2 separate regions of the Homo sapiens genome follow, and region 1 is linked to region 2. The links come from fine-mapping of genetic effects on plasma protein levels. Region 2 holds a variant in brackets. A gene starts in the other region. All regions are shown on their forward strands. Region 1 holds the start of CD27 (CD27 molecule). Region 2 overlaps LOC105370355 (a long non-coding RNA gene).

The links. A credible set is the group of variants that fine-mapping cannot tell apart. PIP is the posterior inclusion probability: the model's chance that the variant is causal. The UK Biobank Pharma Proteomics Project read protein levels with antibody pairs (Olink). The fine-mapping took linkage between variants from a reference panel, not from the people measured, so its PIPs are less certain.
Region 1: it holds the start of CD27, and the variant in region 2 is the best candidate, but not a certain one, in a credible set for the plasma level of the CD27 protein (UK Biobank, PIP 0.54).

The regions. Positions count from the first base shown.
Region 1 is chr12:6,435,188-6,449,468 of GRCh38, forward strand. CD27 (CD27 molecule) reads left to right here and starts at 9,768. Exons shown (of 6, transcript NM_001242.5): 1 at 9,768-10,044; 2 at 10,237-10,368. The coding sequence starts at 9,909. CD27-AS1 (CD27 antisense RNA 1) reads right to left here. Exons shown (of 6, transcript NR_015382.2): 2 at 13,453-13,550; 3 at 12,850-12,963; 4 at 11,774-11,900; 5 at 8,359-8,530; 6 at 3,814-4,489. It also overlaps the pseudogene SRP14P1. RefSeq lists silencers at 7,550-7,689, 7,790-7,869 and enhancers at 8,860-8,929, 8,950-8,999, 9,904-10,405, 9,950-10,009, 10,040-10,219 and 1 more.
Region 2 is chr13:108,343,447-108,357,164 of GRCh38, forward strand. All of the region lies in intron 2 of LOC105370355 (a long non-coding RNA gene), which reads left to right. Among named protein-coding and RNA genes, the nearest start is that of TNFSF13B, 81 kb to the left of the region's middle. The variant C/T (reference allele first, on the strand shown) is at 8,011.

The DNA.
Region 1 (14,281 bases), not on the chromosome of region 2:
CAAAGGTGGGCAGATCACTTGAGCTCAAGAGTTCGAGACCAGCCTGGGGAACATGGTGAAACTCCATCTCTACAAAAAATACAAAAATTAGCTGGGCTTGCAGGGCACGGTGGCTCACGCTTGTAATCCCAGCACTTTGGGAGGCCAAGGCTGGCGGATCACCTGACATCGGGAGTTTGAGACCAGCCTGAACAACATGGAGAAACCCTGTCTCTACTAAAAATACAAAATTAGCTGGGCGTGGTGGCGCATGCCTGTAATCCTAGCTACTCTGGAGGCTGAGGCGGGAGAATCGCTTGAACCCAGGAGGGAGAGGTTGCAGTGAGCAGAGATCGCGCCATTGCACTCCAGCCTAGGCAGCAAGAGCGGAACTCCATCTCAAAAAAAATAAATTAATTAATTATCTGGGCTTGGTGGCGCATGCCTATAGTCACAGATATTTTGGGGGGCTGAAGCAGGAGGATTGCTTGAGTTCAGAAGGTCGAGGCTACAGTGAGCCGAGATGGTGCCACTGCACTCCAGCCTGGGTGACAGAGCAAGACCCTGTTTCAAAAAAAAAAAAAAAAAGCGAGTAGAAAATGCCAGGGGCAGTTGGGCACAGTGGCTTACGCCTCTAATCCTAGCACTTTGGGAGGCCAAGGCGGGTGGATCACCTGAGGTCAGGAGTTCAGACCAGCCTGGTCAACATGGTGAAACCCCGTCTCTACTAAGAATACAAAAATTAGCCAGGAGTGGTAGCGCATGCCTGTGATCCCAGCTACTTGGGAGGCTGAGACAGGAGAATTGCTTGAACCTGGGAGGTGGAGGTTGCAGTGAGCCAAGATCTTGCCACTGCACTCCAGCCTCGGTGACAGAGTGAGACTCCATCTCAAAAAAAGAAAGAAAAAAAATGCCAGGGGCCCAGGAGCCTACTGTGAGAGGAAACGTCCCGTCGCCTTGTGAAATCATGATTCTGCGTGATGAAGAACCGAGTATGAATAATACATACAGAGCAGACATATCGCCTATGCACAGCTTGTTCAATTTAGTGAGTCGTTCTGTCTCTTTCACACTCCTTTGGTTTCGTTCCCAGGTTAACTAGCTGTTCCCTCAACCCCATTTCTTGGGACTTGCAGCCTCAAATACCAAGGAAGAGAGAGGAGGAATGAATATTTATTGAGTACCCAAACAAGACAAGACCAGACATTTCATTTCTATTGTTACCCTTAATTGTCCCAACATGCTGCAAAGTGCACGACACTATCCTCAAGCAGATGAGGACTCAGTCAAGAGGTTGTGGGACATGCTGGACATGATGCGGGTAGTAGCCGGCAGAGAGGCATTTGGACCACCAACCTGTCTGGTTGTGAAAGTCAAGCTCTCTCCACCTATCCCAGGATCCTCCTGTCTCAGTGGGTTTGGGCCCTGGAACCACCCTTCAGTTCCAGGTCAAGACTGCTCCCTTCATAGCGACATCTTTCCCTCACTGTTTCTCCCCTTGCCTGGTATCTGAGAAATTCCTTTTATAGGTCTTGCCCTTCCCTGGCTACATAGACTGAGAGTCAGAAAACCTCAGTAGTCAGCACTCAAACCTTACACCTAACAATTTACATAATATCTGATTTCAGAAATTAGCTTTACCTCAGATCAAAATTAATCCTATAAATCACAGATCACGTAAAATCACAAGTGTGACAAGTCCCAAAAAAGAAAGTGTGACCAGGCTCACGCCTTGTAATCCCAGCACTTCGGGAGGCAAAGGTGGGAGGATTGCTTGAGCCCAGGAATTTAAGGCCAGCCTGGGCTACATAGCAAGACTTTGTCTCTACAAAAAGATAACAAATAAAAAAAAAAATTAGCCAGGTGTGGTCCCAGCTACTCGAGAGGCTGAGGCAAGAGGATTGCTTGAGCCCAGGAGATTGAGGCTGTATTGAGCTGTGTTGCCACTGCACTCCAACCTAGGCAACAGAGGGAGACCCTGTCTCAAACAAACAAACAAACAAAAAAAGAGGCTGGGCATGGTGGCTCACGCCTATAATCCCAGCACTTTGGGAGGCCGAGGCAGGCGGATCACGAGGTCAGGAGATTGAGACCATCCTGATGAACACGGTGAAACCCTGTCTCTACTAAAAATACAAAAATATTAGCCGGGCGTGGTGGCGGGCGCCTGTAGTCCCATCTACTTGGGAGGCTGAGGCGAGAGAATGGCCTGAACCCAGGAGGCGGAGCTTGCAGTGAGCCGAGATCGCGCCACTGCACTCCAGCCTGGGTGACAGAGCGAGACTCCGTCTCAAAAAAAAAACAACAACAACAACAAAAACATAACTATAGGTCTGTGCTCGGCCAGGTATGGGGGTAAAATTTATATTACCCACGTGGTTGGGAAACCTCCTTTATCCCCAAGAAAAGAACATGAAAACTGGTCTCAAGCCAGTGACATCCCTGGGGCGTCTGACAAAAGCAACTGCAAAAACACTGAAGGGACATGTACTCAACCCAACCACCAAGGTGGCCCACAGAAAAAGCCTGTTGAATATGCACTTTCTTTCCCTCTCTCTCTCTCTTTAATGGAGATGGGGTCACACTCCGTCACCGGCACTGGAGTACAGTGGGGTCTCACTGTGTTGCCCAGGCTGGTCTCAAACTCCTGGCCTCAAGCCATCCTCCTGCCTCAGCCTCCCCAAGTGCTGAGATTATGGTGTGAGCCACTGTGATGGGCTTGAAGATGCACTTTTGATTCAAAATTAGAAAACACACCTGAAACAGTCTGACCTAGAGAAACTTTTTCATCTAAGTCAGTCATAAAAATCAAATATTTGTGCTTAGACTCAGATCAATCTATATAAAGTGTTGAGGAAAGTTTTTTAATAACAAAACACATTAAATCATATTGCTCTTACTAAATATATTACTGTTAATGTTTTATTATATTGTGGAAAATTTTGTTACCTATTAATATTTTAATGAGAGCAACTAGATCTTTTATGTTGCAAATAAGTAAATGTGATATCTTTAAAAATTGTTTTTCCTATCCTTATCTCATTGTTTTTATTTTACTTTTATTATTTTGTTGTTGTTGCCCACACTGGTCTCAAACTCCTGAGCTCATCGATCCTCCCACCTCAGCTTCCCAAAGTGCTGGGATTACAGGCATGAGCCACTGCATCTAGCCAATCTCATCCTTTTTATGTTTCTGTATGTGACTATGTAATTCGATCTCATCCTTTAGAACTTTAGAATGTCTACATATACTTACATAGAACCTATTTGAGTATATAATATATGATTAATTTATTTAAAATATTGTGGGGAGTCGAGCCAGCGTCGCCGCAGTGATGTCGTTGGAGAGCAAGCAATTCCTGACGGAGCTGACCAGACTCTACCAGAAGTGCCGGACGTTGGGCAGCGTCTATATCACCTTGAAGAAGTATGATGGTCGAACCAAACCCATTCCAAAGAAAGGTTCTGTGGAGGGCTTTGAGCCCTCAGACAACAAGTGTCTGTTAAGAGCTATCGATGGGAAAAAGAAGATGAGCACTGTGGTGAACTCCAAGGAAGTGAGTAAGTTTCAGATGGCTTATTCAAACCTACTGAGAGCTAACATGGACGGGCTGAGAAGAGGGACAAAAAGAGCAAAAGGAAAAAGACCAAAGCAGCAGCACAGTAAAGGGCACAAATTCCCTGCTTTCACCAATTAACCACTGAATTGCTATTTTTTCCTTTGGTTTTTACTTTTGGCCACATAGCTAGGTTTCTGGTTCCCCCACAGTAGGTGTTTTCACATAAGATTAGGGTCCTCTTGGAAAGAATAGTTGCCATGTTTACAGGGTAGTTGTGGTAAGAATCTAGTTTATTTTACATGTGACTAATTGGTCTGTGCTGCATGGTTATATACTCCTGGATTATAGATTAGAAGTCTCCGAAGTCACCTCTGTGAAAAGCAAGCTATCATTAAACATGTCTGTTTATCAATCAATCAATAAATAAAATATTGTTTATTTGGGGATACATGCTGAAAATCATTTTATTGATGGGGTACAAAATAAAAAAAAAAAGCAGAGACTACTGAATTAGAAATATACATTTTTTCAGGCACAGATGGAACATTTACAACCACATACTAGGCCATAGAGCAAATCTCAAACAAATGCCAGAGGATTCATATGTATTCATTTTCTACAGCTGCTACAACAAATTACCACAAACTTAGTGGTTGAAAACAACCCAAATGTATTATGTTACAGCTCTACAGGTCAGAAGTCTAAAACAGGCCTCACCAGGCTACAATCAGTGATGGCAGGTACAGCTGCCCCTGGAGGCTGAAGGGTCAAATCCATCTCCTTGCCCCTTCCAGCTTCTAGAAGCCGCCCACATACTGAGGCTCATGGCCTTCTTCTTCCAACTTCAAAGTCAGCAACATCTTGATCCTTCTCATGCAGCTGCCTCTCTGGCGCTGTCTCCTCTGCCTCTTTGCCACTTACAAGGATGCTTGTGATTACACTGGGTCTACCTGGATAATGCAGAATAATCACCCATTGCAAGGCCAACCTTGATTCCATCTGCAGCCTTAACTCCCCTTTGCCATATTAACATGCAGTTCAGGGGCGCAGATGTCCTCGGGGGACCAACGTGCTGCCTGCCATGCTACACAGACAGAGTGCTCGGGCCACAATAAATTTAAAATTAAAATAATAAACAACAAAAAGTTAAGCCCCACAGATCTGGAAAATTTGTAATGCATTTATAAATGAAATATAGGTAAAAATAAATAATAACGGGAAAAGCAAATCAACAATAATGAAAAAAACAATATAGCAAAGCTGATGAGATGTAGCTAAAGTAGATCTTCAAGGGAAGTTTATAGCCTTAAATGCATATATTAGAAAATAAGAAATTTCTAAATTAATTAAGCATCCAATACATTAGAAAAAGAATGGCAAAGTATGCCGGGTGCAGTGGCTCACATCTGTAATCCCAGCACTTTGAGAGGCCAAGGTAGGTGGATCACTTGAGCTCAAGAGTTCGAGACAAGCCTGACCAACATGGTGAAACCACGTCTCTACTAACAATACAAAAATTAGCCAGGTGTGGTGGCGCACACCTGTAATCCCAGCTACTAAGGAGGCTGAGGCAGGAGAATCACTTGACCTCAGGAGGAGGAGGTTGCAGTGAGCCAAGATCATGCCACTGCACTCCAGCCTGGGCAACAGAGCAAGACAGCCTAAAAAAAATAATAATAATAACAGTGAAACAGCTACACACAAGCAAATCAAGTTCTACCAGGCTTTCAAGGAACAGATTATCCCTATTGTATATAATCTGTATATAAAAAAATAAAAAATAGCACTTAAAAAACAAGTGGTCAAAGCAAGGAAAATAGAATCGTGTCACAGAAACCAAGGGAAGTAATAATTCTCATGTAGGTGGAGAGCTGCCAGATCCCACATATCTCTGTTAAACTTTGCTTCCTGGATGAGGCACTCCCTACCCCTTAAATCCCCCTATTAGGGGTATAGACACCTATATTGCACCCCAACTCTCTCCTTCATAGCAATAATGACCATTACTAACTAATTTTAATTTTGTTTTGTTTTTTGGGTTTTGTGAGATGAGGTCTTGCTCTATCTCCCAGGCTTGAGTGCACTGGCATGATCATGGCTCACTGCAACCTCGACCCCCTGGGCTCAAGTGATCCTCCCACCTCAGCCTTCCGAGTGGCTGGGACCACAGGCACGTGCCACCACACCCAGTTAATTTATTTTTATTATGTGTAGAGACGGGGTGTCACTCTGTTGCCCAGGCTGGTCTTAAACTCCTAGGCTCAAGCAATCCTTCCGCCTCGGCCTCCCAACGTGACTGGGATTCCAGGTGTGAGCCGCCTCACCTGGCCAATTTTACATTTGTCTTTGAGATTATATGATCGATGTCTGACTCTCACACTGGTGTGTCAACTCCGTCAGGGCAGAAACCACATATTTGTCTGTTTGTTTTTCATCTTTGTGCCCCATTACTTGGCTGGTTCCTAACACAAAATGAATGTGCAAAAAACGCTTGTCAAATGAATGAGGAGGTCTAAGGGGCCTTGAGCCCTCTGACGTTTCCATTTTATAATTGTGGACAGAGCCGCTACAGCACAAAGCTGAGCTGGACCATCCAATGTTTAGCCAGTGCCTTACGTGCTAGGAGACACTGGGAGCTGTGCTGGGCTTCTGAGGAGTGGGCAGAGGCTGGAAATACCCATAGTTGGTCAGTCTCCTGTGTCACCCAGACTGGGGAGGTGCAGAAATGAAAATTACAGAGCTGCGAGGACCCAGAACCTCATTAATGAGCTTAACTCACTGTCCTGACCAGGTGGCCTCTCAAAGCCTTGCTGGGAAGGAGGCTTTAAGGTGGTGGGGGCAGCAGTGCTGGTGGTGGTCATCGAAGAAAGTGGGAGTCGGGGAGGAAGCAATGGGGAGCAGGGGACAAAGAGGGCCAGACAAACTCAGAGCTTCAGGTGATGAGACTCAGGAAGCCTAAGTCAGGAACAGTGATTGCGGACATCTTTGTCCCATAACAGAACTTCCTCCTAAGGAAAGGTCTTGCAGAGACTGGTCCTGCTGAGCGCTTTAACAGGTTATTGATTCATAAAAATTGGAGAAAAAAGACAAAGTCTGCCACACCTAACAGCCTTCTGTTTAGAGCTGGTTTAGAGGAAACTTTAAGCAAGTCTTGTGTCCAACAATTTGGGCCTGAGGCAGGGTACAGGTAAGGGAACAGACAGGAGACACGGAGGCAAGAACAAGACTTTAGCTGAAAGAGAAATCAGAGCCAGAGGCAGCCACAAGAACACCCAACCTACTGGAACTCATGCAGGTGGACAGCCTGCCCAGGACTTGCCCTGAGTGGGAAGCAAAGAGCATCTTATCTAGATTTTAAGGAGCAGGGTGCCCCTGGCTGACATCTAGGCTACAGTCACTGGGCCAGGTGGAGGGTTGGTCAGGCCCTCTCAAAAGTCATGAGAGGCCAGGCACAGTGGCTCACGCTTGTAATCCCAACACTTTGGGAGGCCGAGGAGGGCAGATCACTTGAGGCCAGGAGTTTGAGACCAGCCTGGCCAACATAGTGAAACCCCGTCTCTACTAAAAATACAAAAAATTAGCCGGGTATGGTGGCCGGTGCCTATAATCCCAGCTACTTGGGAGGCTGATGTATAAGAATCGCTTGAACCTGGGAGGCAAAGGTTGCAGTGAGCTGAGATCATGCCACTGCACTCCAGCCTGGGCAACAGTGAGAGACCCTTTCTCAAAAAAAAAAAAAAAAAAAAGAACCAAAAAAAGTCATGAGAGTCCTCAGAGTTCTCAAGAAGGGCTGCTGTGGGCCTGTTTCTGGAAAGGAAAGAAAAGCAGGGAGCTGTTGAGAAAATACCATATGTTTTTATGCCCCAGCCAGGCATGGGGGAGAGGCTGACCCCAAAAGAGAAAGTGGTTGTGTGAGATTTCAAGGAAGATGTCAGCGGGCTGCATCCCAGGGCCTCTAGACAAAAGGAAGGGCCCAGCCAGGCATGGTGGCTCGTGCCTGTAATCCCAGCACTTTGGGAGGCCGAGGCAGGCAGATCACCTGAGGCTAGGTGTTCTGGTCCAGCCTGGCCAACATGACAAAACCCCATCTCTACTAAAAATACAAAAAATAAGCTGGGCGCGGTGGCTCTCCCCTGTAATCCCAGCCAAGGTGGGCGGATCAACTTGAGGCCAGCCTGACCAACGTGGCAAAACTCCATCTCTACTAAAAATACAAAAATTAGCTGAGCGTGGTGGCACGCACCTGTCATCCCAGTTACTCAGGAGGCTGAGGCGTGAGAATGGCTTGAGCCTGGGAGACAGAGGTTGCAGTGAGCTGAGATTGCATCATTGCACTCTAGCCTGGGTGACAGAGTGAAATGGAGGGAGGAAAAAAAAAAAAAAGGAAGGTCCCGTCCAGGGAGCCAGCCTAGGATGGGGAAGGCTCACCAGAAGTGGATGCAAAGAGTGCTGGAGATGAGCTCATTCTATTTGCCTAGGAAAGAAAAACGTCCAGAAACCTGGCCTTCCTCCTCTTGGCCGAGGCCCTCCAGGAAAGCCAGGCAGACCCTGCTCCTGCTCTGACCCCCTGGAGAAGTGATATGTAGAAAAGAGGAGATGGGCTTTGGCCCAGAGGACAGCAGCGTTAGGCTAGTGAGCAGTTCCCAGTCGGTTCAAGGTTGCTAGGCTCAGCGAACTGCAAGTCCCTGTTCGACAAGTTTCTTCCTAAAGGTCCCCAGTTCCTCATGATTCTTCTGAGGGTCTCATCCACCCTCCCAGGGCCTGCAGTCAGCTAGCCACCCCACTGCCCCATGCCTGCAGTGAACACATTTACCACAACCTGGAAATGGCTGGTGACAGAAAAGTCCTCACGGCCACAACACTCTCTGCGGTGGGAATTCAGGTGCCTTGCCTGATGGTGACAAAGCTGGTTTTGCATAAACAGCTCTCTGAATCACACCCAAATGTGGCTTCTGACTTGAGTGGACCCCCATGAAGAGCTGCAGAGGGGGCTGGGAAAAGACAAGAGAATGGAGAAAATGAGGAGAAAGGAAACTACAGAGTGAGATAGAGAACAGATCTGACAGGTGTGACCACAGCAGTGTGACATTTATGAACAGTGTGGAAACAACGGCAAAGCCCCTAAATTAAAAACTTCCTGGGGAAATAAGCCACTCCACATATCGGTTGCTGAGGAAAGAGTGGAGGAGGCTGTTGACCCGTGTGTGTCCCCATGACTCAAAGAGGGAAAAGTCTAGCTGTTTCCAATATCCCGAAATCAGTCTTGCTGGGAGAACTGGGAAAATAAAAAAGAGATGACCCCCGTAGGAAGCTACCTTTAATCCCAAGTGCCCAAGGCTAGGAGAGAAGATGCTCCAGGCGATCCAGGACACCAGTGACTGACACAGCCAGAGGTGGGAAAGGGGAGGATAAAGATGGCACAAAAGTGAGGAGTGAGCAAGGGTCTGAGAGGGAAGGCCATGTGGGCAGTAGGTGGCACCCACATCAGAGACTGACATGAGGATTAAAGGAGAGCATAGGTGATCGGTCAGAGTGTGACAGAAGAGAGGCAGCTCTACACCCCTTGCTTGCAATTCTGAGCATTCTGTAGCAAACTCGTTTGGCCATCAAACCAGACCTCAATTGAGACAAGGCTATTTAAGCTTCCTCCCAGTTGGTGTAAATATTCAATAGTTTTGCTGCAGAAATGTTGCGTTTGATTATGAGACTACCCCAACTCCCCAAGGGTGTTTTGTGGTGCTGGTTTCTGTATAAACCTGAAAAATTCTGAATTCCAAAACTTATCTGACCCCCAAAGTTTCAGATAAGAGCTTGTGGACCTGTGCTCAATTCTGGTTCTCCTTCCTTCTTTCAACTGTTGTCTGTGAAAGGAGGGATGCAGGTATGGGAGACAGGAGTCCTGCGAATTCGTCTGTAAACTGTGGACGGGGGGGTGGGTGGGGGGGGGTAACGTGGGCACCTTTGTGCACAAGTGCATGAATAGGAGGGGTGAGCAACTGTGTGTCCATCACCTTTTTGTCAAAGAAGCAGGAGTCAGTGGGCTACGTGCTTCATGAGCAGGAGAGGCGGAAACTAAGGAAGGCTCATGTGTTGGAGGAAGCATGTTTGAAGAGCAGCAGGTCTCACAGAGTTTGCTCTTTAATACTCTCCCCAGCACACGGAAGGGGAAGGGGGTGGAGGTTGCTGCTATGAGAGAGAAAAAAAAAACAGCCACAATAGAGATTCTGCCTTCAAAGGTTGGCTTGCCACCTGAAGCAGCCACTGCCCAGGGGGTGCAAAGAAGAGACAGCAGCGCCCAGCTTGGAGGTGCTAACTCCAGAGGCCAGCATCAGCAACTGGGCACAGAAAGGAGCCGCCTGGGCAGGGACCATGGCACGGCCACATCCCTGGTGGCTGTGCGTTCTGGGGACCCTGGTGGGGCTCTCAGCTACTCCAGCCCCCAAGAGCTGCCCAGAGAGGCACTACTGGGCTCAGGGAAAGCTGTGCTGCCAGATGTGTGAGCCAGGTAAGAGGGGGCCTTGGTAAGGGCCAGGTGAGTGGCGAAAGAGAGAGGACTGGGGTTAATACAGTAAATAGGCGCAGGGTGAGACTGAGCTCAAGCAAGGAGGGAAATCCTGCAGCTGTGGGGAGGCACCACCTTGAAGAGGGCAGAGAACCAGCCCTTCTCAGGCCTTGATCCCTTACCCTCTCCTCCCAGGAACATTCCTCGTGAAGGACTGTGACCAGCATAGAAAGGCTGCTCAGTGTGATCCTTGCATACCGGGGGTCTCCTTCTCTCCTGACCACCACACCCGGCCCCACTGTGAGAGCTGTCGGCACTGTAACTCTGGTGAGGTGGGCAAGGGTGTGTAGGTGGGGACGATGGACAAGCATCTGGGGGAGCAAGGCTGGTGACGGGTTTGGGGGTGCAAGGAGGATGACGGGGCCAAAGCTTTGGCCTTCTTCAAGGCTCACAGCAAGTGGAGCCAATGCTGGGAAATGCGGCACCCTAGGTGGGGCATGAATTAACGTGGGCAGACATCTAGTATTCCAGGAAAGGGATAAATAGAATTTGAGGGATTGGTGAGAACGGGTCTATGGATAGGATCAAGACAATAAAATGAGAGAAGTGGCTCTATGACCCCAGATTTCGGGCAAGCAACCCCCAACCAATAAACTGACTGTGTTCCCAGAGTGCACATGTGCAGGTTGGCCATTGGGAATTTGGAATACATCTTTCTAAGGAAATAACAAAGCAACCCAATAGGTAACAACCTTTTTTTGCACAAAAGCCAATTTGAGAAAATGAGTATGTATGTAGCCTGTGTTTTTATTTTATAGTTCCAAAAAAAAAGGTTTTTTTTAAACTAAGAAGTATAATATCTGCAGTTGTGCTTATGAATGCTGTTATTATTTCTCCATCTTCGCTACAATTTCAGAAACTACGGCCAGTATACACTAGAATAGCAGGCTTTAAAGTGGCCCCTTTGAACAAATGTTCTCTAGCAAGACACTTTTTAGAACCAGGTAACTGTAACTATTAAACTACCTACTTGCAAAACGTGTTTGGTGTCACTGGGTCTCTTGGTACTGGGTTTTGTTTTGTTTAGTTTAGAGACAAGGTCTAGCTCTGTCACCCAGGCTGGAGTGCAGTGGTGCAATCATAGCTCCCCACAGCCTTGAACTCCTGGGCTCAAGCAATCTTCTAGTCTCAGCCTCTGAAAGTGCCAGGATTACAGGTGTGAGCTGTAGTGCCTGGTCCCGTAAAAACAAAAACAAAAACCAACACCAGATGTGGTGGCTCATGCCTATAATCCCAGCACTTGGGAGGCCAAGGCAGAAGGGTATTTGCATATTTTGTAGAGACTTGAGCCCAGGAGCTTGAGACCAGCTGGGCAACATAGTGAGACCTTGTCTCTAAAAAAATTGGCTGGTCATGGTAGTGCACCTGCAGTCCCAGCTACTTGGGAGGCTGAGATGGGAAGATCACTTGAGCCCAAGAGGTCCCCAAGAGGTCCAGGCTGCTCACATCACTGCACTCCAGCCTGGGTAACAGAGCAAAACCCTTTTTCACACACACACACACACACACACAAAAAGCCAGAGCAGTGGCTCACACTTGTAATCCCAGCACTTTAGGAGGCCAAGGCAGGCGGATCCCTTGAGCCCAGGAGTTTAAGAACACCCTGGGCAACATGGCAAAACCCTGTCTCTACTAAAAATACAAAAAGTTAGCCAGGCGTGGTGGCACGAACCTGTAGTCCCAGCTACTCAGAAGGCTGAAGTGAGAAGATCACTTGAGTCCAGGAAGTGGAGGCTGCAGTGAGCCGTGACTGTACCACTGCACTCCAGCTTGGGAGACAGAGTGAGCAGAGTGAGACCCTGTTTCCAAAAAAAAAAAGAAAACAAAAGCTTTTCCATTGCAAATCAACCAAAAAGGAACGTCTTTAATACACAAGAAATATTCTTCAGTCTACTTAACTTAAAAATGTAACTGTAATAGATGCTTTTCTCTTGACAGCGGCCCCGGCAGGGTTGGAACTTTTCCTAGTCAAAACCCCCCTACTCACTCTGCAGACCCTTCCTGAAGGTCTTCGCCCCATACTGAGCCCATCTTCAGTCCCTTCACTTGTTCCAAACTAGCCCAATCCATGACCCTTCTCTGGGAGCTCAGCCAATAGATCCCAAAGTACCACAGCAGCACCTGGCTGCAGAAGGACCCCCGGGAAATGCAGTCAGGGGTGAGAAGATGGGTGGGCTGAATGAGCTCGGCCCTCTCTGGGCCTTAGTGCTGGCATCTATGAGATGAGGACATGCCTGAAGTCAGCCTGGAATTTTGAGCCCAGGTTATACCTGGTAAATAGAACTCCCAGGTCTCCGGATACTCACCACTAAAACAATAGCACCTCATTGTTTTTGTTTTGTTTTGTTTTGTTTTTTAATTATACTTTAAGTTCTAGGGTACATGTACACAATGTGCAGGTTTGTTACATAGGTATACATGTGCCATGTTGGTGTGCTGCACCCATTAACTCATCATTTACATTAGGTATATCTCCTAATGCTATCCCTCCTCCCTCCCCACACCCCACGACAGGCCCCAGTGTGTGATGTTCCCCTTCCTGTGTCCAAGTGTTCTCATTGTTCAATTCCCACCTACGAGTGAGAACACATTGTTTTTAACCCTCCCCAGCAGCTTCTTTAACCCCTCCATTTCCCTTTTGGCGGAGACCCTTGTCATCACTCCTCTCTACCACCAGTGCTCTCCCCTCCTGCACTGTCCCAGGCTTCCTCATTCTTCCCTTGCAGGTCCTTATCCAACATGGCTCACAATTCCTGGGAAGCCACAAGGAAACCAAATTCTAGTAGCAACTCAGAGTCAGCATTCATTAGCAGGTCACAGGGCCATAAGGATGCCAAGAAGGAATTTGTCCCTCTCCTTGTCCTGACAAAAGGCATAAGTAGAAGAAAATTGTTAGGTTTGGTTATGACCTTTGACATTCTCTCTTTGACATCCTCCCTTTCTGCACCCCTCTTCCACCTGTCAGGGCACCTAGGGCTCCCCGGGTCCCCACAAGTGTCTGCCCTAAGGCCCACCAGGCTTTCTTGCAGCCTGTCCCACATCTGGGTGTCACTGCCTTCCTCTGAATCACCCTCCTCTCAAACCAGCCGCCAGCGAGCCCAGCCCAGCCCAGCTAGTGCCCTACCACACCCGCCCCCAGGATAATTAACACCCAGCCACCCAGCATCGGACCTCTACACTTGAGCAAAATGTATATTTTAAAGGCAAATTCTCACGCCTGTAATCCCAGCACTTTGGGAGGCCAAGGCGGGCGGATCACGAGGTCAGGAGATTGAGACCATCCTGGCTAACACGGTGAAACCCCGTCTCTACTAAAAATACAAAAAATTAGCCAGGTGTGGTGGCACACACCTGTAATCCCAGCTACTAGGGAGGCTGAGGCAGGAGAATCACTTGAACTCAGGAGGCGGAGGTTGCACTGAGCCGAGATCGTGCCACTGCACTCCAACCTGGGCGACAAAGCAAGACTCTGTCAAAAAACAAACAAACAAAATAAAGGCTAAGTAACTGTAATCAAGTAACTATTTATTATTTATTTATTTTAGTGTATCCACAGGTTGTGCAGCCATCAACACTATCTAATTCTATAACATTTTCGTTACCCCAGAGAAACTTGTACCCCTTAGCAATGACTCCCCATTTCTTCCCCCCAACCAACCCCAGCCCCAGCCCCAGCCCCTGGGAATCCCTAATATACTTTGTTTTGTTTTTTGTTGGTGGTGTTTGAGACAGGATCTCACTCTGTCACCCAGGCTGGAGCGCAGTATCATGATCTCAGCTCACTGTAACCTCCACCTCCCGGGCTCAAGCGATCCTCCCACCTCAGCCTCCCCAGTAGCTTGGGCCTACAGGTGTGCACCACCACACCCAGCTAATTTTTGTATTTTTTGTAGAGACGGGGTTTCACCATGTTGGCCAGGCTGGTCTCAAACTCCTGAGCTCAAGCAATCCACCCACCTCAACCTCCCAAAGTGCTGGGATTACAGGCGTAAGCCACTGCACCTGGCTATTTTCTTTCTTTCTTTTCTTTTTTTTTTTTTTTTGAGACGGAGTTTCACTCTGTTGCCCAGGCTGGAGTGCAGTGGCGTGATCTCGGCTCACTGCAACTTCCACCTCCCGGGTTCAAGCAATTCCCTGCCTCACCCGGCTATTTTATATTTGTTGATCTGCTGCTGGTTAT
Region 2 (13,718 bases):
ACTCCCCTAGAACTCCTTGCAAATAAAACCTTTTCTTTTCTAAGTGACTCTGTCTCTGAGTCTTCCTTTGACAACATTTTCAACACATACACTGCATGCGAAGATGTTTGATAAAGAAGAAATCTTGCTTTCAGAAATAACAATCAGATTTGATGTAACCCTCAGGTTAGACAGTTTTTCCTTTGATTTATTTAAGCAACATCTTTTTAGAATCTTTTTATCGTTACTTCCAATCAAAAAGCAGAGACCACAGCCTATAATTCTGGAGTATTTTCAGCCTGGCACATTTTGCTAGGCAACTTCCAATATGCTTTCTCTTCTTTTTTGGTAACAGAAGTTTATGCCAGGTTAATTACTTCTCAGAAGGTTACATTGCTCAGTGTCCCACCCTGAAGATGGATGTGGCTATTTGATATACTTATAGGCAACAGAAGGTAATGGAAAATGTGAACAGTTTTGGTGAAACTTCCCTAAAAGTTATCTAGCTCCTGTTCTTTACTGTTTTCTTCTTTGCCCATTACCATTTCCTGTTAGCTGGAATAGCATCATACCTGGTGCTGGAGTAATAGTTTTGATTTATGAGATGAATTTGGAAAAGATAACCATGCACAACTGAGACAAAATAGAACTTGGCTCTCTGAGGATATTGTAGAACAGTAAACCAGCTGTGGATATACCCTCCCTGAATTCCATGAGAAAGAATGAATTGAATTAATTTCATTAATTTCTATCTTGTATAAATCACTGTTTCTTTGTTGTTGTTTGTTTGTTTGTTTGTTTTTTGAAACACTTTGTCTCCCAGGCTGGAGTGCACTGGCACATTCTGGGCTCACTGCAACCTCCACCACCTGGGTTCAAGCCATTCTCCTGCCTCAGCCTTCCGAGTAGCTGGAATTACAGGCATGCTCCACTACACCTGGTTAATTTTTGTATTTTTAGTAGAGACAGGGTTTCACTATGTTGGCCAGGCTGGACTAGAACTCCTGACCTCAAGTGACTCGCCCACCTCGGCCTCCCAAAGTGCTGGGATTACAGGCATGAGCCACTGTGCCCAGCCCATTTCAGGCATTTTATGAGTTGCATTTTGTCCCTCCGAAAATGATCTGGTCAAGGTCTTACCCCACTACCTCAGGATGTGCTCTTCTTTGGAGATGGGGTCTTTACTGAAGTAACCAAGTTAATGTGAGGTCGTTAGTGTAAGCCCCAATCCAAAAAGACTGGTTCTTTATAGAAGGAGAATTTGGACACAGGTGCACACACTGGGAGAATGCCAGGTAAACATGGAAACAGCTCTCTACAAGCCAAGAAGAAAGGCCTGAGACAGAGCCTTCCCACACAGCCCTCAAAAGGAACCACCTTGACACCTCAATCTTGGATTTCTAGCCTCAAGAACTCTGATATAATACATCTCTGTAGTTTAAGCAGCCCAGTCCATACTTTCTTATGGCAGCCCTAGAAAAGTAATACAGGGCCTGAGTATCAATAAGCATTTTTCAGGAATCATTCTAAGTGCTTCAAGTTGAGAAGATTTAACACATGAAATGGAGGTTAGAAAACTGTCAGAATGCCTGGGAAAGTAAACAGAAAGGAAAATGGCTGCTGGTTTCAGGAAGTCAAGAATCGCAGGAACACATGGCTGGCTGATGATCTCAGCGACCTGCGGACCAACGCAGGTGATCTGCAGGAACCTCCTTGGAAGCGGCAGCTTCCCGCACTCCATATCCACCGGCTGTGGAAGCTCACACATCTGCCTGCTCCTGATGGAAGCATAGAGGCTGCCACTCCTCTTCCTGATTCTGATGCCTGAGTGGGTGCCTCCTGGTGGTGCAGTCTAAGTTAAAATCCTGCTGGCAACCGGAAAATGTAGGTTTCAGGGTTTCAGCCCCTGTAAATACAAGGGAGAATATAGAAGTGGGCAGAAGTATTCCTGTGATGGAAATAGGAAATCCACCGCAGCCTCCGTTACTCATAAATACAGCTAATGAAACTTAGTAAACATTTTACATCTACGAAAAACTCTGTGTTCCCTTTCTCACTATGTGACCCTTTGGCAGTATTTACAAAGTATAACTGTGAAGTCGGTTTCAAAAGTATGCTTCATATCCTCCAGTTCCATGGGCAGGCTTTGTAATCAGCCAAACGGGATCAAACCCAGATCCTTAATTTACCAGCTGCATGACTTGGGAGACTCACTTAAGCTAGGTGTACCACCGTATCTGTAAAATGGGACTACTAACAGTATATATCTTCAATAATTGTGAGGACTGAATGACATGAAATATGTGGAATAATTTTCAGTGTGGTCCATCCTAAGTGCTCCATAAATGTTGGATCTTTGTGTTATTGCTGTGATTTACTTCATGCCTTTGGTGTGAATTTAGTTGTTTATGTATCAGCCTGTCCGCTGAGACTGTTGAGCTCTCCTAAGGTCGGGAGTCTTACGTTTTATATTTTATCCCAGTGAGTGGTAGGCAGTGTATTATTCTCAAGACACTGAGGTGGTTCTTATCTAATATCTGTAATTCTAAAAGTTTTCAAGGTTTTTAAATTAATTCAACCAACCATTCTTTCAACAATTTTGAGGTTAAAACTTCTAACATATCCTTGATCACCTCAATTCTGGTATTTCTATATTCCTGTACAAAAAGAAATGTACAGACAGTGTGGTGAAACTTTACAAAAGATTAAGTGTTGGGATGGGGAAGCGGGGACATAAGTAATAAGAGGGCTTAAATCTGCCTGGAAAAGGTGTTTATTCATTATGTCCTCATATGATATGTTAAGGAGTTCAACCTTACTGGGAGGCAATGGGAATTAAATAAGGGATTTATTGTGAATGATAAAGTGATATTATTACTTTTACTTTTTTAAATTATACTTTAAGTTTTAGGGTACATGTGCACAACGTGCAGGTTTGTTACATAGGTATACATTTACTTTTAAGATTACATTGGAATCACTGCCATAGATGGTTTGTCGGAGTGAGAGAGGAAAAGAAAATTAGTTAAGAGGGCTTGAACTTTGGCAGTCATGGAGAGAGAGGGGAGAAGCGAATGGGCTGTGCAGATGCTGAGCAGGCAGAGCTGACAGGAAGGATGGCCCTTGTGCAGGTGCGGCAGACCCGGTGACTCAGAAAGAAGTGTGAAAGGGAGGCGTGTAACTCAGAGGGAGAGAGCAGCCTCGGTGTGGTTGACCTTCGTGGGGGCAGCTTCAATCCTGCAGGAGCACAAGGCTGATTGCTGGAGATCAATAAATGCGGAAGATAAGATAGTGGGGGTGTTGAGCAGATTTCACTTCATTCAGTAAGTTTACCTGCAAAAGGAAGAAGAGAGAAAAGGCAGCAGTAGCATGAAAATGTGTCGATTTTGTCAATTGGAGCATTCTGTATATTCTGTTCAATTGATGGCGCTTTATTTTACTGCTTAACTATAAAAGCCATTGACTGCATGATTAAGTACATAATGCCAATAAAAATGACCTTCCATCCTGTTGTTTTTTAATCACCAAATGACTCCCTGGCTGTCAGTAATAATGAATTCATACACACCAACAATAACAAAATGTTTATTTAGGACAGGACCTCACGTGAGGCCAGCCTTCCTAAGGAAGTGAACAGTTACCTGCTTTAAGGAACTGTTTGCAAATGGACCTCCTGTCTTATCTCTCACAGACCAAAAACTCCTTTTCAAACAAAAAACCTGGGCATATTTTGCCAGCAACAAATCCGGGAAAATATCTTAGTAGGAACTGGGAAACACTGCATTAGAATCTGAACCCTTCAGTAGCTCGAAGTCACCATGCTTTCTTTTTTTTCTTTATAGTACAATTTGTTTTTCAGAAGAGTTTTACATTTACAGAAAAAAAGAGAAAATAATATAGTTTTTATATACTCTGTACCATATGTTACAAATACTAAAGCAATGTTGATATATTATTATGAACCATATTTCTTTTTTTTATTATTATACTTTAAGTTCTAGGGTACATGTGCACAACGTGCAGGTTTGTTACATAGGTGTACACATGCCATGTTGGTGTGCTGCACCCATCAACTCGTCATTTACTTTAGGTATTTCTCCTAATGCTATCCCTCCCCCAGTCCCCCATCCCCCGACAGGCCCCGGTGTGTGATGTTCCCCGCCCTGTGTCCAAGTGTTCTCATTGTTCAGTTCCCAACTATGAGTGAGAACATGCAGTGTTTGGTTTTCTGTCCTTGTGATAGTTTGCTCAGAATGATGGATTATGAACCATATTTCATCTTTTACTCGGGTTTCCTTGGTTTTTACCTGTTATCCTTTTTCTGTTCCAGGATCCCATTCAGGATACCACATGGCATCTGGGTGTCTGTCCCTTTAGGCTCCTTGTGGCTGTGCCAGTTTCTCAGATGTTCCTTGCTCCTTGTGTGCAATGACTTTGATAGTTTTGAGGAGTACTGCTCAGGGATTTTGCAGGATGCCTGCTATTGGGATTTGTCTGATGTTTTTCTCATGAGAAGAGTGGGATGAGGAGTTACTGGGGGGAAGACCACAGAGTAAAAGTCGCATTGTTATCACATCCTATGCAGTGGAGATATTATCAACATGATTTTTAACCCTTAATGTTGGCCTTGAGCACCAGGAAGGAAGTCACTAAGTGCAGCCCACACCAAGGAATGCGAAGTTAGGCTTCACCTCTTTGCAGGGGTTGGGGGCGGGTATCTACATAAATTATGGGAAATTTTACTGTATGAGAGATTTGTCTCTTCTCTCATATTTATTAATTTATTCAACCATTTATATCTTTTGAATCCGTGGATGTTTATATTTGGGTTATAATCCGACATTACTTAATGCTCAAAGTGTTTCAGCTTTGGCCTTTGTTGATACTTTCAGCTGGCTCCTGTACTCTTCTGACATGTCCTATTACCCTGACACTTTCTTTTCTTTTCTTTTTTAACACTTTGTTACTTTCTGCTCATAGTTTATATGGGTGTATATGTCTCTCTCTCTCTCTCTCTCTCTCTCTCTCTGTGTGTGTGTGTGTGTGTGTGTGTGTGTGGTTAAGGGGAAACTGTCTAGGCTTGTACTTGGGGCTCTTTAATACCCTTCCGTATTTTTTGTCCATCTGATATCTCTCACACCGAGAATATGTTTCTGTCTATCATTCATCTCTCATAGTTTCCACTTTATGAACAAGTTGATGTGTTACTTGGTGCATAAGTATGAATACCTTCTATATATTAATGTGAAATATTTAAAATGATTAAATGGTGTTTAATTTGTCCCACTGAATGTTTTTACTCAAATTCTCTTCTGGGTGCTGTCAGGACCACCATCCCGATTTTCTCATTGATTCTATTTGCCTTGTGCATTTTGTAGACCCTTTAGTCTTTCTGAGTCACTTTGTTTTGGGTGTGTCTCTTGCGTGTAGCGTGTGGTTGGCTCTTGCCTTGTGAGCCGAGTTGAAAATGTGGATATGGTGGATATGATTGGTTTCAGCTCTGACATATTACTATTGTTGAACTTGCTGTGTTTTCTATTATGTCATTTTTCTGAAGGCATAGTATTAGTGTGGTTTTATTTGTTTTCGCTGGTGACCTATACAGTGTTTTGGAGGATGTGTAAAGTGATAATAGTTAAGTGATTGTCAGCCACCAAGAAATTCCCCACCACTATTTCTTTTTAACATTTATCATTCTTTTCTTGTTCTCAAAAAGCTATAAAAAGGCAAACGCCCTTAGGATGTCCAGAATGGCTATGATTTGTCATGTCCTTTTGGCAAACGTATTAATAAGGCTTTTAATAAAGAAATGAAAATGTATCTGACATTTTCAAAAAGCCAGTCAAGATTCAGAGTGTTATTTATACCTTAGCAGTCAATTCCCTCAATATTCATATAAAAATTTAATGAAATTACAATTAAAATCCAGCAGAGTGTACCCAATTTAGAACTGAATAAAATGATCTTAAAATGCATATGAAAATTCAAAACTTTGGGAATAGCCATGACAATGCTTTTTAAAACATATTTAACAGATGTCAGCAAATACTGCAAAGCCACTGGAGTCAACTTAATACGGCATTGGGATAGATAAATAGATTAGTTTAACCAAGTAGTACACCAAATAGTTTTAACCAAATAGAAGCAAGGACCAAAGCCCAGTATACATGAGATAAAATATTAGACAAAAAACTGTATTCTAGTTCAGTGGCAAAAGGTAGCTTAATTTTTTTTTTTTTAGACGGAGTCTCTGTCACCTAGGCTGGAGTGAAGTGGTGAGATCTCAGCTCACTGCAACCTCCACCTCCTGGGTTCAAGCAATTCTCCTGCCCCAGCCTCCCGAATAGATGGGATTACAGGCATGTGCCACCACGACTGGCTAATTTTTTTGTATTTTTAGTAGAGTCGGGGTTTCACCATGTTGGCCAGGCTGGTCTCGAACTCCTGACCTAAAGTGATCCACCTGCCTCGGCCTCCCAAAATGCTGGGAATACAGGCATGAGCCACCGCACCCGGCAAGGGTAGCTTATTTAAAAAGTGGTGCTGGCACAATGACTTTCTACATAAAGGGGAATATTTAAAATCTCAGGCAGGAGTGAAGCATCCCATCAGTGGTCCCACGTGTCTGGGTGGTTGGCAAGAACAGAGTGCTAGGGGATAGGCTGGTGAGTGAGGTGGCTTTTTGACTGTGAACATCTTTGCATGTCACATAAGGAGTGTAAATTCAACCTTATGGGGAAAACGGGGAGCCACTTTTTTTCTATTTGGCTGAAGGATGACAATTGTCTATATGTTTTAGGAAAAAGTTGGCAGAAATACAAAGACTTTGTTGAAGGGGAGAAAAGTAAAAGTGCTGAAGGTAGCTAGGACGAGAGAGCTTGGGGAAGCAAGGCATGGAAAGACAGAGGGTTCTAAGAACCTGTGAAGAGCTCTGATTCTTGAGGAGGCAAAACTTGAGGTCAGGCATGGCCTGCTTGATCATCTGCCCAGAGCCACTCATGCCCACCATGTGCGTTGCAGATATTAATACGTTCCCGGCCTCATGTTCTTTCCTCTCTTGCTGTACAGTTATAGTAGGCAAAATGTGCTGTTTGTTTAGCTATCTGTCGTTTTTCTCTCACACCATCGTCCTCCTCTTTCTCAGCTCCTGGCACCAGTGTTCATCATGTGGACCTTCCATCCTCTTTATGGTAATCTGGTTCACGGTCATCAGCTCTGCAGTTTAATACTCACTCAAGGGAAACTGGAGATCTGTAGCTCAAAATGCAACCCAGAGTGTTCCCAAGTTGATGGAGTAGTCAACAGGGAGCGGCACCAGGGGAGGGGCTGCGTTTCCGGGTGTGCCGTGTCCCTCAGCTGCTGCTTGCCTAATGCAGCAGGTGGAGCTCACTTGGGCCACAGCAGACGTACCGCTGTTCGACAAGGATGACTGGGGAGTAAATCTTCTTAAAAACACACGCTAGATTAGCTGTAAAGTCTAATGAAACTGTGTAATGCAACATGTCTTTATTGAAACACAAAACATAGATAAGCCTGAATGCAAGAGTGAATATAAATGTCTTCACGTTACATGAGGATTTCTGTTTTACGTTTTACAAGCTCTCCATTGACTTGGAAGGTCCAGGAAGCAGTGCCTTGCTTTTTTTTTTTTTTTTCCTGAGGCTGTCTGTTATTATGGTTTCTATTGTTATGATTGTATATTATTCTTACATTAGTTTATGTGGTAAATATTTAGTGCCAGGTATTCCAAGAGGAATATTTATTCTCATTTTATTCTTCATTCTCAAAATCATTTTATTTTCAGAACAATCCTTATTTTATCAACTAGGGCTCTGCGATTTCAGCAAGATTAAATAATTTTCCCAAAGTCACACAACTAGGAAGTGAAAAATATGTAATTTAACTCAAGTGTATATGATTCAGAGGAACTGCAGCCTCCCCACACTGTATTTCTTCCTGAATAGGGCCAAACAACTAATTTGAATAGAGAGAAGTGAAGGATGTTTTGGGATATTTTGGCAATGTATTTTG[C/T]CTTTACTACAGTTTGTCTTTGTGCCTATAATCTTTTCTTTCTTTTCTTTTCTTTTCTTTTCTTTTCTTTTTCTTTTTTTTTTCTGAGACAGAGTCTTGCTCCGTCACTCAGGCTGGAGTGCAGTGGCGCGATTTCGGCTCACTGCAGCCTCTACCTCCGGAGTTCAAGCAATTCTCCTGCCTCAGCCTCCCGAGTAGCTGGGATTACAGGCATGCCCCACCATGCCCAGCTGATTTTTGTATTTTTAGTAGGGATGGGGTTTCACCATGTTGGGCAGGCTGGTCTCAAACTCCTGACCTCAGGTGATCCACCTGCCACAGCTTCCCAAAGTACTGGGATTACAGGTATGAGCCACTGTGCCCAGCCTCTGTGCCTATAATCTTAATTTAATTGGATAATGCAACCCATCATTTTAATGTGAGCACTGAATTTAAAGAGGATGAAGCTGGTTTTTTATCGTTTCCTTATACTCTTACTGACCAGGTTCAGAATCTGATAGTCACTAGATGTTATTTAGGACAAGTTATATAAGTTTTCTAAAGCTCAGTGTACTCATGTTCCAGATATTAAGTAAAAATAGATGTAAACATATCTAGAGAATAATAACCAGCAAATAAGCCATATCTCCTTCCTGTCTATCACACTATCCCCCTCACATCTCTAGTGCTTTAGACCCATAAAAGTTTACGCTTTAAATTTTAAATAAAACTCCTGTAGTGAGGATAGTGTTTAACCCAAAGGATACATATCTCATAGTGTAATTTTACTATTATGTTAAACAAAGAAAAAAATAATTTTGTGTTTTAGGATCTTCTTGGAATACTCTCAAATCTCAGTAAATTCATGGCTGTTTCTTTAAAATGCGCTCTGAAAATATAAGTTTTGGCTAGCATTCATGGGCAAAGTTAGGCATGAAAAAAAAAGGGAAGAAGTGTTTGGAATGGAAAGAACAAGACCAGCACACAAAGAAGTTCAGACAATTAAAAATTTTGAAATGAAAACATACAAACTTCATGAGAAAATAATGGAAAATAAATCACTAAATAACCATTTTGATAGAAAGCTTTGAATGTTGGGAATACTTAACATTGCCATTTTTATTCTCATCATGTTAATAATATTTTTTTAATCCATTTGGTTTGCTATAAATCCAAGCATCACTATGAATTATCTAAGCTGGAGAAGCTAAAGTTGGAGCAAAAATAAAGAATGACCTTCAATACTAAAGAGCAGAAGCTGGCTGCTTTCACTGTTAAAGATGACAGAACAAGAAGAGAGTCACAGAGAATGTGGTGTTCAAGTTCTATTTTCCCTGAAAGTAACAGATGTGGATTGTGACTGTTTGCTGAGGGAAATTGTGCAATTTTTTCTCTAGAGAGTTTGGTATGGCTTTGCCAGAAGACAATGTATTACCCGACTATCACAATTCATCCCCTTGCCTGCGGGAAATATAATTCTTTATTTGAGAGCTCGAATTATCTTCTATTTTGTTTCAAAGAATCTGGAATTCTATGACCACCATAGAAAAAAGAATGTCATTCATTTCTGGAATTTGTTACACTGGAAATATAACTCAAAGTCTTTGCCAAGAGTTCCTTTTTCTGAGCTAATCCTCTGATGGCCATTACATTTAAAGTCAAAATACAGCCTTTAACTTCTCACTGGAGACTCTCAGAGGTCTCTCAGCTGAGGAAGGCACTTATGTCCAAAGTGATATACACAAATGGTCAAAACTATGTAATGTCAATGAAGACAAATTGTTGGAAGTACCTGAAATATTTTGAAACTTGATGTACAGAAAATAGGGTAGTAAAAAATGTCCTGTCATTGAACTAGGTAATTGAAGAATCACTGAGTGGAAGCCTGCACAGAAAGAAAGACAGGAAGATGAATTTAGCTTTCCTCTTCATCAATATAATATTGACAGAATAACTAACGGTATAGCTCTTGTATGAAAAATTGTAAGTAAGGCTGACAGATATACTGGTGAGGTCTGTTCACTTGCTTTGTTCTAATGGGTTTATTTTGGGGACCCATCAGCTTCTATTTAAAATATTAAATAGAAAATTGACACACAGTAGTTTGTTCTAAAAGCTTTACATATCTCACTCCATCAATGATCATTTTTTTTGAGTACATGCAAGACAAATGTCAGACTCACAATATTCAAAGATGGGGAAGATGTGGGGCCTCTTTTCAATAAACTGTCAGTCTTCAAGGTTGCTGGAGTCCATCTCTGCAGGGGGAAACTGGGTAGATATTAGTTAAATATTAATCTACCTCTTTACCGTGCATGGCCAGCAACTAGGGCGTAATTCCTGCAGTACTGTTTGGCTCCCCGACACATTTACATTATTTTTATTTTTATTTTTACCTTTTCTACAGATGAAACCAGAGAAGGGGTCATGCAGATGGTAATAGCCATCCAAGGAGGGCGATGACCCCTTGTTAGTATTTAACCCATCTTCTGAACAACAGGCAGTGTGGTACTCACGAGATCACCAAACATTTTCTTCAATCTGAGGAATGGTTGCAGCCTAGGGCTCTCAGTAGTGAGGAACTGTATTGTGCTTTTTCATTTTATAAGAATGCTATGTTAGCCATCAGAGCTGTCACCGTACATTCACATGTCCAATATCCATGTCGGAGAAGCTGGTATTTCTGTTTCTGACCAACAAATGATATTTAAGGGAACTTCATTTATAAGAACATTGATCCATGCACTACTTTGCTGCATATGCTTTTGATATATAAACAGATCATGACTCAGACATGCAAAGGGGCATTTAGTTTATGTCTCCATAGGCTAAGTTAGCTGATCCATGCATTGATTTCAATATGAAAATCAACTTTGTTTCTTTGTTCATTTATTTAATTGAATTTACTTCCTTGATATGCTCTTTTAGTGTTGCATGTGCAAAACCATAATCTTATGCCTTGCTGCCCAGATCGCAATCTTTGAAGACTCATCCTTGAAGCACTGTGCAGAATTGTGAAGCAGATTTTAATTGGTGGGCTATTATGTTCTGGGTCCTGTTCTAGTTTTGGGAGATGCAGTAAGGAACAAAACATACAAAAATCTCTGCTCAGGGAGCTTACATTTCAATGGAAGGGATAGATAATAAACAAAACACACAGCACACGCAATAGTGGCAAGCACTTAGGAGGAAATGTTTAAAATGGAGCAGGCATATGAAACGTCAGAGCTGGGGAGAGGAGTGGGTGTTGACATTGAGGTAGCATGGCCAGAGAAAACATCACACAGAGGGTGACTTTTGGGTGAAAACTGAAGGAAACGAGGGAGCTATGCATGCAGCTAAAAGGAATGAGGGCAGAAAGGAAGCAGGAAGTAGAAGAGCATTGGGGTGTGGGTGGCCGGCATGTCTGGAGAGCTAGAGAGAGGCCAGTGCACCTGGAGTGCAGAAAACGAGGAGGAGGCTGAAAAGTAAAGAGGTCAGGCAATAGGGAGCCTTGTAGAGCCTGGCTTTTACTCTGACATGGGAGTCTCTTGTGGAGTTTTTCACATAGGAGGGATAAGGTATGATGTATGCTTTAACAGGTTCATCCTGACTGCTGTGTTGAGAATATACTACAGAGAAGCCATGGTAGAATCGGGCAGAAAGTTAGAGCAATACCTAAGGGGAGAGCTCATGGTGGCTTTGATAAAGGAGTTGACCATGAAGATAATAAGAAAACACAGGATGATGTGCTGCTGTAAGGAATAAGGAGGTGAGAGGAAGAGAAGACTCAGGAAAATAGAGTTGCTGTTACTTGAGTTTGGGAAGATTGTGAGATGAGATCATGTGGGTAGGGATATGTAAATTTGCTTTAGGGCGTAAGTTTTTGGTGCTAGTATGATTCCAAATGTGGGGATCAGTGGACAGGTGGATATATATTTTCTGGAGTTTGGGGAAAAATCTGAGCTTCAGATATAAATATGAAACTTGTCAACAAACAGGTAATAATTAAAGATATGATACTGAGTGACTAGAGAATTAGTAATAATTTTTTTTTTTAAAGCCCCGTGGGAACAGGCAGAGGGGCAGGACTGGAGCAGAGGCTTGGTCAACGTTTGAGGTTCCTATTAGGTCTGTGGTGTTTACTAGATGTCAGAGGAATTCCAGTCCCACTTTTGGGAGCAGCTTCCATTCAATGCTCACAATGAATCACCTGACTTCGTTAAAGTTCAAACTTGAGTCTAAATATTAAAGAACCATAAAATCCAAGTCTTTAGTGTGTAAAGAGGAGAAGGGTTGAAGTAGGCAAAAATGAGGTGTTTAGTCATTAGTAATTCTGCTGATACAAATATTGTTATAAAATTAAGTATATATTTATGTATATTAAAATATTAAATTAATATTGAATATATATTTAAAATTTTAAAATTATAGGCATTGACAGAATTTTGGCTAAATTTCTCAAAACAGTCTCAGAATAAGCAGAAGTTATCATTCTTTGGCCCTGAAGAAAGTCAACAAGGAAAATGCCTTGAGCATCCCCAAGAAGCTATTGACGTGACCTTTGCTCTTGACCTGTCTGCTTTTGCTTTGACTGGCCCACTTTCACCTCTCAGTAGCCATTGCTTTGATTATGCTTTGCCTTCAGGATCATACTGGTAAAGCATGTTTCATCTTCTGTTACAATTCTTCAAAGAAATTCTTCAGGATCTTGATCCCCCTTGTTTAAAATTTCCATTGAAAGCTCTGTTCTTGTCTGCCGCTGATCTGGATGCAAAAATTTTGGTCATTAGGTGGAAAATTTTCTCAACTTTAATTTTTCAGAAAGAATTGTGAAAGCTGAACCAGGTGAGATGTCGGTGGCATTGGCTTGTGTTTCTGCTGCTAATCGTCAGTCCTCTTCAATTTGGGTAAAACAATAACATTTTTTCTTTGCAAATTGATGTGAATGGCCTGCCCATGCAGGCTTCGTCTTCAATATCATCTTGTCCCTTATTAAAATGAGTTGTCCATGTATAAACTGCTGATTTCTTTGGGACATTGTCCCCATAAACTTTTCATAAAGCATCAGTGATAGCACCATTTTTCCAGAAGCTTCCTCATAAATTTGACATTTGTCCTTGCTTCAATTTGAGCAGAAGTTATGTTCCTCTGATAGAGGATCTTTTCAAAGTGCTTTCTTCTTAGTACTTCAAACTAGATCCTGTTCAGACATATAACAAAGTAGTGCAAGTTTTATTTTAGTACAAAAAAGTTTTGAAATCCATGCATATTTTTTTCATCATACACATTTTTCATGAGCCTTTTGAACACTTTTTGTGTATGTATATATATTTTTTAGACATATATGTATTAAACTAAAATTGACTATTCATCAGTATTATACCTGGCATCTTGAAATTATCAATAATCAATGATTGTAAGGACATACATTTGATTCTTAAAATTATTTACCATTGTAGCATATTACTTAGAATTATTGTTAATATCTTATATCTTAAGCATTTTTCTTATAGATCTCAAAATATTATTAACATCTTAAAATGCATTATCAATATTCATATCAAATAAGGTATTTTGGCTGTAACTCGACGTGAGCATCTCCTTATGTATTTCATATATTGAGATTTTGTAGTTGAAATATAATTATACACTGTATTTATTATTGCAAAAGTCAAATGCGATAATTTGTGATGATGGTAATTTATGTATAAAATAATTAGGAACTTTCATGTAACTAACAAATACAC